2 separate regions of the Homo sapiens genome follow, and region 2 is linked to region 1. The links come from fine-mapping of genetic effects on gene expression. A gene starts in region 1. The other region holds a variant in brackets. All regions are shown on one strand. Distances are between the middles of the regions. Region 1 holds the start of M1AP (meiosis 1 associated protein). Region 2 overlaps TTC31 (tetratricopeptide repeat domain 31).

Region 1 (5,371 bases):
TCCCCATAGCACTACTGTCTTTCCAGCTGTCTAAGCCAGAGACTTTGCATTTGTTTATTCAATAAGTATTCATTGAATGCCTACTATGTTCTAGGCCCTGTCATTTTGGATTCCTCTTAATCAAATCAATCATAAAGGCCTGTTAATTTTAACTCCTAAATACTTCCTCCCACATCTCCGCATCCCCTCTGCCAATACCCTAATTCAAACAACTATCTTCTCTTGCCTGGGCTCCTTCCTACTCTTGTCTTGTCCCTATGCCCTGCTGCCACCACCCCAATTTCAGCCCCCAATCCATTCCTTTTAAGGCAGGGAGGCAGGGAGAATGTTCTCTCCAGTACACAAATCAGATCATGTCACTCTTCTGCTTAAACACTTCAGTTTATCTCCCCATTCCAGCCCACCCCGCCTTTGCTATGAGATAAGATCCGAAATCTTTAATATAGTCCACAGATCGTATATGTTCTGGCCCTTTGCCTATCTCTCCTGCTTCATCTTTGACACTCCTCTTCCACATACTATACTCCATACTGGAGTATAGTTCAGCAAGACTGTTGGGGAATCATCAAGCCAATGTTGCCCATTAGAGGAGTGCTGTGTGAGGAGTGCTGTGTGAGAAGTGCAGTGTTTCCCAGGAATGGGTCTGCCTTAGTATCTCCACCACATTCAGTCAGTGGCTGGGAAGATGGCCTCCATGCAAATGTGGCAGATTTCTTTTTTCTTTCTTTTTTTTTTTTTGAGACAGAGTTTTTGCTCTTGTTGCCCAGGCTGGAATGCAGTGGTGCAATCTTGGCTCACCGCAACCTCTGCCTCCCGGGTTCAAGTGTTTCTCCTGCCTCAGCCTTCCGAGTAGCTGGGATTACAGGCATGCACCACCATGCCCGGCTAATTTTGGATTTTTAGTAGAGATGGGGTTTCTCCATGTTGGTCAGGCTGGTCTCGAACTCCTGACCTCAGGTGATCCACCCGCCTCGGCCTCCCAAAGTGCTGGGATTACAGGCGTGAACCACGGAGCCCAGTCGTGGCAGTAGATTTCTAAGGCAGCAGCTGATGCCCTTGGTCAGTTACACTCCTTGTAGTTTAAAGTCTGCAAGGTGCTTTCTCATGACCATTATAGTTTATCACCCTCAGAAAACAATTCTTATGTCATAGTCCCCATTTCTGGTACAGTTCTTTGCATATTTTTAATAAATGCTATAGAGGGTACGGAAAGAAATTAATAGTAGGTAGGAGCAATGGGTGGTATGGTTTGGAGTGAGGCTAGTGCTCAAGTTTGAATGCGTCCCCCAAAGTTCATTTGCTGGAAACTTAGTACCCAATGGAATAGTGTTCAGAGGTGGGGCCTAACAAGAGGTGATTAGGCCATAAGGGCTCTGCCCCCATAAATGAATTAATGTCATTATCTTGGAAATGAGTTAGTTATTGAGAGAGTGGGTTTGTTGTAAAAGTGAGTTCAGCTCCCTATTGCTGTCTTGCTCTTTTGTACCCCTTGCCCTTCTGCCTTCTGCCATGGGATGACACAGAAAAAATGCCCTCACTAGATGTGGGATTCTCAACCTTGGAATTCCTACCCTCCAGAATTTAAGAATACATTTCCTTTATTTACAAGTTAGTTGTTCTGTGGTATTCTGGTATAGCAACACAAAGGGGAGTAAGACAGGTAATGCTGGGGTTGAGCCTAGTAAGGTAGGTGGGGTCAGTTATAATGGACCCTCTAACCGAAAAGGAAACATAAGCCATTTTTAAGACAAAGAATGATATGATCAAAATATTTTTACAAGGACAATTCTAACATCAGTGGAAACGATAATCTGGAGATTAGAGACAGAAAGGCTAATTTGGACTATATGGGGGGAAAGAGCTGTTGAGAAGCTACCCTTTAAACTGAAACACAGGAACTCTATTGAATATCAGATTATAGTGTTTAAAAAAGGACATAGGTTAAATAGTTCTGTTCTTACCTGAGGAACAGTTGATAGGAGCAAAATGGTTTAGTGGGACTAGAATACAAGCAGGCAACTCTTTTCCTGTTGAAACATCTAACCTATCCTGTGCCACTCATTGAAATATTGCCCCACCCCACCTCCAACCTGCATCTAGACAATGAACTGAGAAAATAACAATAATAATAATAAAGAAAACAAGGAAAACTGCTTGTACATTTCTAGCTTGGAACTAGCATTATCTTTCCCTCTCCTGTGGACTAATTCAGAGAATTCCTTTTTAACCAGAGTTGAAGACCCAGACCAACCAACTGTTAAGGACCAGGACGCTCCTACCCCATCTGGAGTTCGTCAAAGGGACTATGGGAATCAACCTCAAGTAAGCGAGAATGAGTATGAAGAGAGCGACAGACCCTCTTGGAATACAGGAGTTTGAAAAGACTTAAAAGAACTTTGTGAAGGCAGCTATAACTTCCATGAGGGCAGTGACCATTGTCTGTACATCCACTGTACTCCAATCCTAGCACAATGCGTGGCACATAACGTGCCCACCACAGATGTTTAGTGAACAAAATAGCGACTGGCTGAAGGAAATGATGTGGAAGGGAAAAGTTAAAACCAAGAAAACGGTCGGTGGGGGAGCTACTGGCATGTTTCATGGGAAGGGGTAGAAAAAGAAAAATGTCAGGTTTAGCACAGCATTTCCAACAAATAGACAAAATTCTACCTAAGGGACAAAGAAGGACTGTTCTCAGGGTATCTAGGGACTTGGAGACCGTTTTCCTGAAGCGCCACCTGAAGCGCACCCTGAGGCAGCCAGGCCCCGCCTTGCCCGCAGTGAGCCTCCCGCCCAGCCGCGCCGGCCTGAGGGGGGCGCCTCCGAACGCGCGGGCGCACGCTGAGAGCCGGGAGGACCAGGTGAGGGGGCCTCCGTCTTCCGAAGACAGGTACGGTTCTCCACGCCTCGGGGAGGGAGGGCAGCCCGAGAGCAGCCGGCACCACTTCGCAGGCTGGGCTGGGCGTGGGCCGAGCTCGGGCCAGTCCTCAGGCAGGTGTTGGTTGCGCTGGCCGTGGCGGGTGCCGGCGCAAGACTGACGCCGAGAGAGGCTCCGAAATCGCTGTCGGAGTCATCCCTCCGCATACTGTTCTGGGCGGCCAGGCCTGCGCGGAGTCTGGGCCCGGAGCTTCCTCCGCGGGGCCCCCAGGCCCGAGGGCCGGGCTGCTGATCCGCCAGGCACGGTAGGCGCCATGCCGAGGGACCACGGAGGCTTCAGGGAGCCACGAGAATTTTTTTTCTTCTGGTTTTGCTTTGTTTTTGAGACGGAGTTTCACCCTTGTTGCCCAAGCTGGAGTGCAATGGCGTGATCTCGGCTCACTGCAACCTCCGCCTCCCGGGTTCAAGTGATTCTCCGCCTCAGCTTCTCGAGTAAGCTGGAATTACAGGCTCCCGCCACCACGCCTGGCTAATTTTTTTATATTTTTAGTAGAGACATGGTTTCCCTATGTTGGCCAGGCTGCTCTCGAACTCCTGACCTCGTGATCCGCCCGCCTCGGCCTCCTAAAGTGCTGCGATTACAGGCGTGAGCCACCGTGCCCGGCCACGAGAATGTTTTCATTTCGTTTAAAGTGAACCCATGAAGTCAAAGAAAGTGTTTTGATTTTTTTCTCACATCAGGAGGGGGAAATGAGATTTTTAGGGCCTACAAAATCCATTAACTTCTTTTAATCTTTTTTTAATGGAGGAAGGGGTCCACGAAGACGAAAGTGCCTTAGGGCCCACGAAATCTTTAATAGGGCCCTGCCAGAGGGAGAACCATTGAATCGTTTATCACGCGACAAAGTGAATGAGGGCTTGTAAAGGGGCCCTAACCTAGAATGCTCAGCACGGAACAGAACATCCGCAGAGGCAGACACAGCGAGAAGCCGATCTGTGAGAGGTGGATCTCCCGGGGTGCGGGCAGGGGAGGGCCTAGTGTGAGGATGGAGAGTTGGGCAGAAGGCACAAGCAGAACTTTAGGGCCAGGGTAAAGATATTGGATTCTGTTTCCAGTGGTGTAATTGGAAGTCCTTGGAGGGTTTTTAGTTTGGGCATAACTTGGTGGTTTGGAGTGGTTCAAGGCCCAGTTCCAGTTTTAACCAGTTTGCAGGGAGAATTCATTAAGCGAGTGTTCTTGGCAAAAGTGGAGAGTATAGGGTCAGAATAAGGTCAGAGCCTGTTTAGTACTATGCCCAGACACATCAGATGCATGAATTGATGATGTTTGAGGATGTAAGGAAGAGAGCTGCCTCTTACCTCATTTAAAATACAGTCTTCCAATTGCACATTAGTGTGGGATTGAAAAATGACTGCAAGCTGAAACCATTCAAAGAGATCTTAAACACCAATGGGAAAAATTACAGTTGTTCTATAACCTTGAAAAATTGTCAAAACACTAAAACTTTCTTACTAACTGTATAGGGAAATGTAAAACAGTAAAACTATTTCATACACTAACTTAAAACATTAGAAACATTGAGAGCTAAAGTGTTTTATTTGTTGAAAAAAAACTCTCATAGTAAAACTTATGAGAGAGCAAACATTTTTTGTGTGTCTTGGCAAACTGACATACTTCTTTCTAAGTTTGGGTTAGTTTCCTACATTTTATCCTTTGTACCTTCAATTTTGTAAAATATCTCTGAAAGTTTCTTTAATAATGAAGCTTTTTGCCAGTGGCCCTTTCTGTAGGATGTCTTCATCCTTTTCATCACAATGACTTTCCTCAAGTATGTTGATAAGTTTGCCTTCACTAAATTCCTCTGGCTGCTTCTCTAGAGTCTATCAGGTGGAGGCAGTGTCAACACTCTCATAGTCAGCTGTTTCTCCTTTAACTCCACTTATGTTAGATTCAGATTTCACTCCTGGCATTATCATTTTTTATTTCTTTGCTGCTCCTTTTATCGGCTAGTTTCCTCTTTCAGTTTTTGTTTTTATAAAACATCACATGGGCTTATCACTAGGAGACAAGGAGGCGACACAACTACACACTTCTGTCTGTGCTTTAACTGACTAATGGATCTGCAGTGACGGGTCACCAACAGACTTTGAAAGAAGTGATATAATTAATTACTGATCATGATGCACTGATCACTATATTATATCAGTACGCTATATCAGTATACTATACTATTGATACTGATAACTAGTAATTCGTGAACTAAAGAGCTAGATACTACTTTATGTAATTACAGTTAATATTCCATGGTAACTGAAATTTGAACTGTGTTGTTGGAAGACTAGTGTTAATTAACTAAACTGTAGTAACTGAAATCTATATACTTGAACCATGCAAAATGAGGACTGCCTCTACTTTATTTTTTTATTTTTATTTTTTTCAAGGGTGAGCTGGTGATGTTAAACAGCAACTTTTATTAAAGCAGCAGTGTACAGC
Region 2 (5,371 bases), 160 kb after region 1:
TACCATTGAGTAGTGGTGGGTGGCCTTTGAGAGGTCAGGAGCCCTACAGACATCCCAAAAGCATGCAGGTCCCTGCTCAAAAACAGGAAAGCCAGATGGGCAGGCCTCTTATGGAACCACTGTAATATAATCACCCCTTGGACAAACACAACCACCTATGCCCATCCTGCTCCCCAACCAGGGGTGAGCAAAGAACTCTCAGGGCAAATCCTTCTAGTTAGGAAGGTAGGGTCCAGTCAAATTAACTGGCTGAGTCATAACCTCTCTCCCCATTGAGGTTTCCCAAATTCTAGCCCAGCTAGCACTGCCACCTCTTATACTGAAGACTTGGACAACAAAACTCAAACCTGTCCCACCAAAATGGCCTCTGGATGGAGGTCTGCTCCGCTAAGCCCCGCCCTTGAACAGTGTGTATCAGGATCACTTGGTAGGTTTATTGAAACACAAATTGCTGGGCCCTGCTCCCATGGTTTCTGATGTAGGTCACTGCAGGGGGCCTGAGAAATTGCATTTCTTTTTTTTTTTTTTTTGAGAGTTTTGCTCGTTACCCAGGCTGGAATGCAATGGCGCAATCTCGGCTCACCGCAACCTCCGCCTCCCAGGTTCAAGCGATTCTCCTGCCTCAGCCTCCCGAGTAGCTGGGATTACAGGCATGTGACACCACACCTGGCTAATTTTGTATTTTTAGCAGAGGAGGCGTTTCTCCATGTTGGTCAGGCTGGTCTCAAACTCCTGACCTCAGGTGATCCACCCATCTTGGCCTCCCAAAGTGCTGAGATTACAGGCGTGAGCCACCGTGCCCAGCCTGAGAAATTGCATTTCTAGTAAGTTCCTGGATGATGCTGATGCTGCTAGCCTAGAAAGCACACTTTGAGAATCCAGTCCCAGAACTCTGGATTTTGTGAATTTCAGCACCAATTCACCCACACTCCTCTCTTCCTATTGTGGGAAGCATGACTATGTAGGACAGTTGCAGACAAAAAGTGGTTTATTTAGCACCCACTATGTACCAGGCACTTGGGAGGTATTTTCTCACACTTTCGCTTTCCATCCTCACAATATCCCTTATGAGGTAGGGACTACCCTCATTTTTACAGGTGAGGGAACTGAGGCTTAGATGTTGACAGACCCATCCAAGGTGACCCAGCTGGTAATGGTAGACTTCATCCTGCTACACAGTATTTAAGGGGCCTAAACCATAAACAATTTTTAAAAATTTGGGAAAGTCACACATAAAGGAGATGTTTCAATACCTTCTCTCTCCAGGTATGAACAGTATTGAGCAAGACCCACAGGGCAGCAATAATCATTTATCCTGATGAAAGGTTCCTCTGTGAAAGGTAAGGGGGTTGGGGGAGACCTAAAGCCTTCTGCAGACCCACATTTAAATGAGCTGACAGTCCCAGCAGGACTACAGAGGAACCAGCTAGGGGAAGCTGCCAGGATCTTAGACGTGAAATTAAAAGGAGATCATGCTTCTTACCCAGGAAGTGGGGAATTCAGTTGACCCTTGAAAAAACTGAATAAATTAACATGGGGAAAGGCTAATTACCATGCCCAGTGCTGGGGTGGAGAAACAGAGTGGCCAAGGTTGTAGCAGCTTGGGCACCTGCTGAGGCCCCATTCAGCGGGAGAGCCACCAGTTGGGAGTGTGGACATGTATGGCCCTACCAGCTCTAAGCAGGAGCTGGTAAGGGACTTCCCAAATGCAAACCCTTGGTGAATATTCTAGCAGTGAGAGGAGGTGAGCACCAGACCACTGGACAAGAGAGGTCAGAGTCATACATAGCAATCTGGACAGGAAATGGCATGAGGAGCTGTGAGTAATCTGGGGGCTATGGCTAGAAAAACAGGGCACGAGCTGGGGCTGAGAAGAGGTGAGCATCCATCAAGCTGAAAGGTGGGACTCAAGCCCCCTCAGCACTGTGACCCCGTTCCTGTACACCAAGCTCTAGTTGGTGAATGAGGTCCCCTGGACCAAGAGGAAGAGAAAGGCCCAGATGCTTTCTCACTGTCTCTGCTATAGCCTAAAAACCTGAACTTTTCTATAGTTCCCTTCTTGAGCCTTGGTGGGTTTTATTTTTCCTTACTGCCTCCAGAAGAAGCTTGAGAACCAAAGGATGTTTCAGTGGATGTGGGGCTCCTTTCTCTCATCAGAAGCTTCCCCATGGCAAGAGGAATGACTGCCAGGGCATCATTAACTATGGATCTAGAGAATAAGGTCTCAAAATATGCAGTGAACTGTCACCACACTATGTCCCCCACCAAGGGATATATACATGGCCCTGCCCTATGAGGGACCGGTGCCCCCTCATCTGGCCTGAGACAGATGCTGGAGCCCAAGTCCCAGGATGTCCCAGCCCTTTGAAGGGTCCTGGGGCTTGAGAGGATGGGGCCTTCTACTCTGAGTCTGGGAGAGGGGCTGGTTGGGGTGGCTTCGGTGACATGAAGGATAATGCAAGAGTGGAGACAGGCCAGGGGACCTCAAAGCAGTGCTTCGAGGGCACCTGAGGGAAGGTAGGCCTGAGGGTGCCAGCTCAGCATGGGGAAGTGGCTGGAGGGCCCCAGGTGACAGAGGTGGTGCACAGATTCCTCCTCGCTGACCCTGCTGAGAAGGGAGAGAGAAGGGCACCAGATCCTTCTTTTAAGCAGGA[G/C]AGCCCATGCCTCTCATTCCACCCATCCTTCCCCGCCCCCTCCTTAGCCACCTGAGGCTTGGTATTGCAGTCCCAGCCAATTCTCCCTGATACCCGCCTCAGCATGACAGTGTGCCTGGCCCCCTTACCAGTGTGAGGTGGAGAAGGCAAGAGCGGAGCTCTCGGGCTGCGTCAGGCTGGGACCCACCTCTCAGAGTTTCCTGAAACACAGCAGCTGCCTCTCTGAAGCGCTTTGGTCCCAGAGGGATCAGAAAGAAAAGATTAGGTGTCAAGGTGCTTAAAAGTACCCTTTCTAAAACTGGCCCCTGCTCCTAGTACCACAACCATTGTGACACTTTGGTACTAGAAGCTTATCTAGAAAGTCAACATAGACCCTCTCCCCACTCCATCCCACTCAAATCTCTCCTGTTTCCAGCCCCAGACCTATTACCTGTAGTCCCATCAAGGCCTTGCCCAGGCGGAAGAGGCCCCGGGGCCAGCCAGGCCGTAGGGTAAGGGCCACCTGGGCATCAGCCAGGGCCCACGCTGGCTGACCCAACCGCTCATGGCAGAAGGAACGATTTCCAAATAACCTGATAAAGACAGAAGGTGGCCAAAGGTCTGAGTCCTCAACACTCTGCCCTGCCCTGGCCAAGCCCCCACCTACCGGTGGTCCTGGGGGTTGAGCTTCAAGGCCTGGGTGAAGAGGACCACGGCCTCATGGTAGAAACCATTTTGAGCAAAGCTGGTACCCAACTCTGGAAAGGAAAGAGGGTGAGAAGGTTCAGATGGGGCTACCCCAGGGAGGGTGGGGTGAGGACGGAGAGAGAAAGGATCTCACTTGCCAGTTCCTGGCTCTGTTGTAAGGCAGCTGCCAGCAGTCCCGGAGATGCCTGGGGATAGGGTGCAAAGTCAAGCAGGTCTTGAGGTCTCAGCCTCCCCAAATCCTTCTCCTTTGTTTAAACAGGTAACACTGCAATTAGCATTACCCAACTCATGTAATCCTCATGACAGCCCTACAAGATGGTATCAGCCCTATCTTCCTAGACAGGAAACCACCCGGGGTCATGGTGACAGTGATGGGGCCTGACTGTAGGTCTCTTGACCCTAGAGCCAGAGAACTCCCACTGGACCCTGTGTCAATCCTTAGACCCTGTGCCTCCCCAGCAGCTCCTTGTGCCCCTTCCACGGTTCCAGCTGAATAAGGTTCTTCAGCCACCTCACCTGTACCTTTGGACTCTGCTGGGGCCTCTCCTCTCTTGGAGGGCTCTCTTCCTCTTGACCCATCTTCTGGAGGGCCAGACCCCTGCCTTGGGGCTCCTGGTTCAGTCCCTTCTCTCTGCGGGCACTGAGGGGCCAATCCCCAACCTTGCGCAAAGCCAGAGACACAAAAGTGCTAGATAGATCCAGTGAGTCCTGTGAACAAAATGGAAAGTTAGGGAGGGGGTGGGGATGAAGTACATTCTGGAGGAGGAGGAGGAAAATGAGCAGAGACCAAGAAGGGAAAAAAGGGGCTCTCACCTCTTCTTCACCACACTGTCCCTGAACTGGGTTTCCAGGGCTGGATGGGGGGCTCTCATCTCCATCTGAGGTAGTGCTGGCCTGGAAGAAAGATAGACAGGTACAGAGTTGGGATCACCTTGAGCTGCCTGCTTTCTTGGCCCTCACCTTCCTGGCACTTGGTGCTCTTAGTACCTGCCCTAGATACTCACCTTGGGCTCCCCACAGTACTGCTCCAAACGCTCCTGTCGCTTCCGTTCCTTTTGACGCTGCAATAGTAATGGTAACAATGATGTATTTTGAACACTTACTGTATGTCGTGTGCTGGGCTAAGATTTCGCATTCCATCTTTGCAGCTCTATGAGACAGGCATCATTATTATCCTCATTTTGCAGGTGAAAAAGCAGACAAGAGAGGCACCAGCAAGAGGCCTCATGTAAGGAGGCAGATTCCTACCTAGGCAGCACAGTAGGATTCCAGAACCACTGCACCAGATGGCCTGTGAGAGACCCCCCAGTCCCTGGGCCCCTTGTGTCCTCCTGGCAAGAGAGTCCACTGCAGGCCATCTTGAGCTCTCTCCTGTTCCCACAAAGTTTCCTCTTTCCCTCTCCCAAATCCCTTTGGCTCCCCTGCACCCTCCAGCCATGCTCTAGCCACCTTCTTCTTGAGTCGCTTTTTCTCTGCTTTCTGTTTCATGCGCTCCTCCTCAGCCACCAGCTCCTCAGCCAGGCGATTGGCTTCCTGAAGGACGAAGGGCAGGTGACAGAAAAAGAGAGAAACAGGGAAATGGAGAGCAAACATGAAAGGGGGCAGGCAGTATAGAAGGATCTTGAAAGGTACCAATTAGGGGAGAATATAGGGATGGGGATACAGGGATTGAAAGAACCCTGGGGGACGGCAAAGCCCTCTCCTGAGAATCTCACCTCTTCTGTCACCAGGAGCTTCTGGGGCATGGCCACCTGAAGCAGGCTGTCTGAGACACTGGGGAAGGTGGCAGAGGCAGAGGGGCTTTGAGGGCAGGGCTCAGACTCTTGGGGAGGATACAGGAAGGACTTGCGGAGACCACAGTAGGTGCCCAGTCCCTCAGCCCCCTTGCCCCTGTCACTCTGTCCAGTTGATTTCCCTTCATCATCCAAGTGGCCCAGGAGGTAATCTGTCAGGAGGGAGAAAGAGACAGGAAAGAAAGGACATGAGAGCGGGGTGCATCTGAGGGTCAGCCCTCCCAGGGTACCAGCCTC

Evidence for each region. PIP is the estimated chance that this variant, and not a neighbour inherited with it, causes the effect.
Region 2: its variant is the best candidate, but not a certain one, in a credible set for the expression of M1AP in whole blood (INTERVAL, PIP 0.80).

What each region holds. Positions count from the first base shown.
Region 1 is chr2:74,645,784-74,651,154 of GRCh38, reverse strand. It overlaps M1AP (meiosis 1 associated protein), which reads left to right and starts at 2,825. Exons shown (of 11, transcript NM_001321739.2): 1 at 2,825-2,890.
Region 2 is chr2:74,490,159-74,495,529 of GRCh38, reverse strand. It overlaps TTC31 (tetratricopeptide repeat domain 31), which reads right to left. Exons shown (of 13, transcript NM_022492.6): 4 at 5,057-5,286; 5 at 4,791-4,874; 6 at 4,346-4,402; 7 at 4,155-4,235; 8 at 3,858-4,049; 9 at 3,475-3,526; 10 at 3,301-3,391; 11 at 3,085-3,226; 12 at 2,783-2,884; 13 at 971-2,608. The coding sequence ends at 2,312. Among named protein-coding and RNA genes, the nearest start is that of LBX2, 6.8 kb to the left of the region's middle. The variant G/C (reference allele first, on the strand shown) is at 2,655.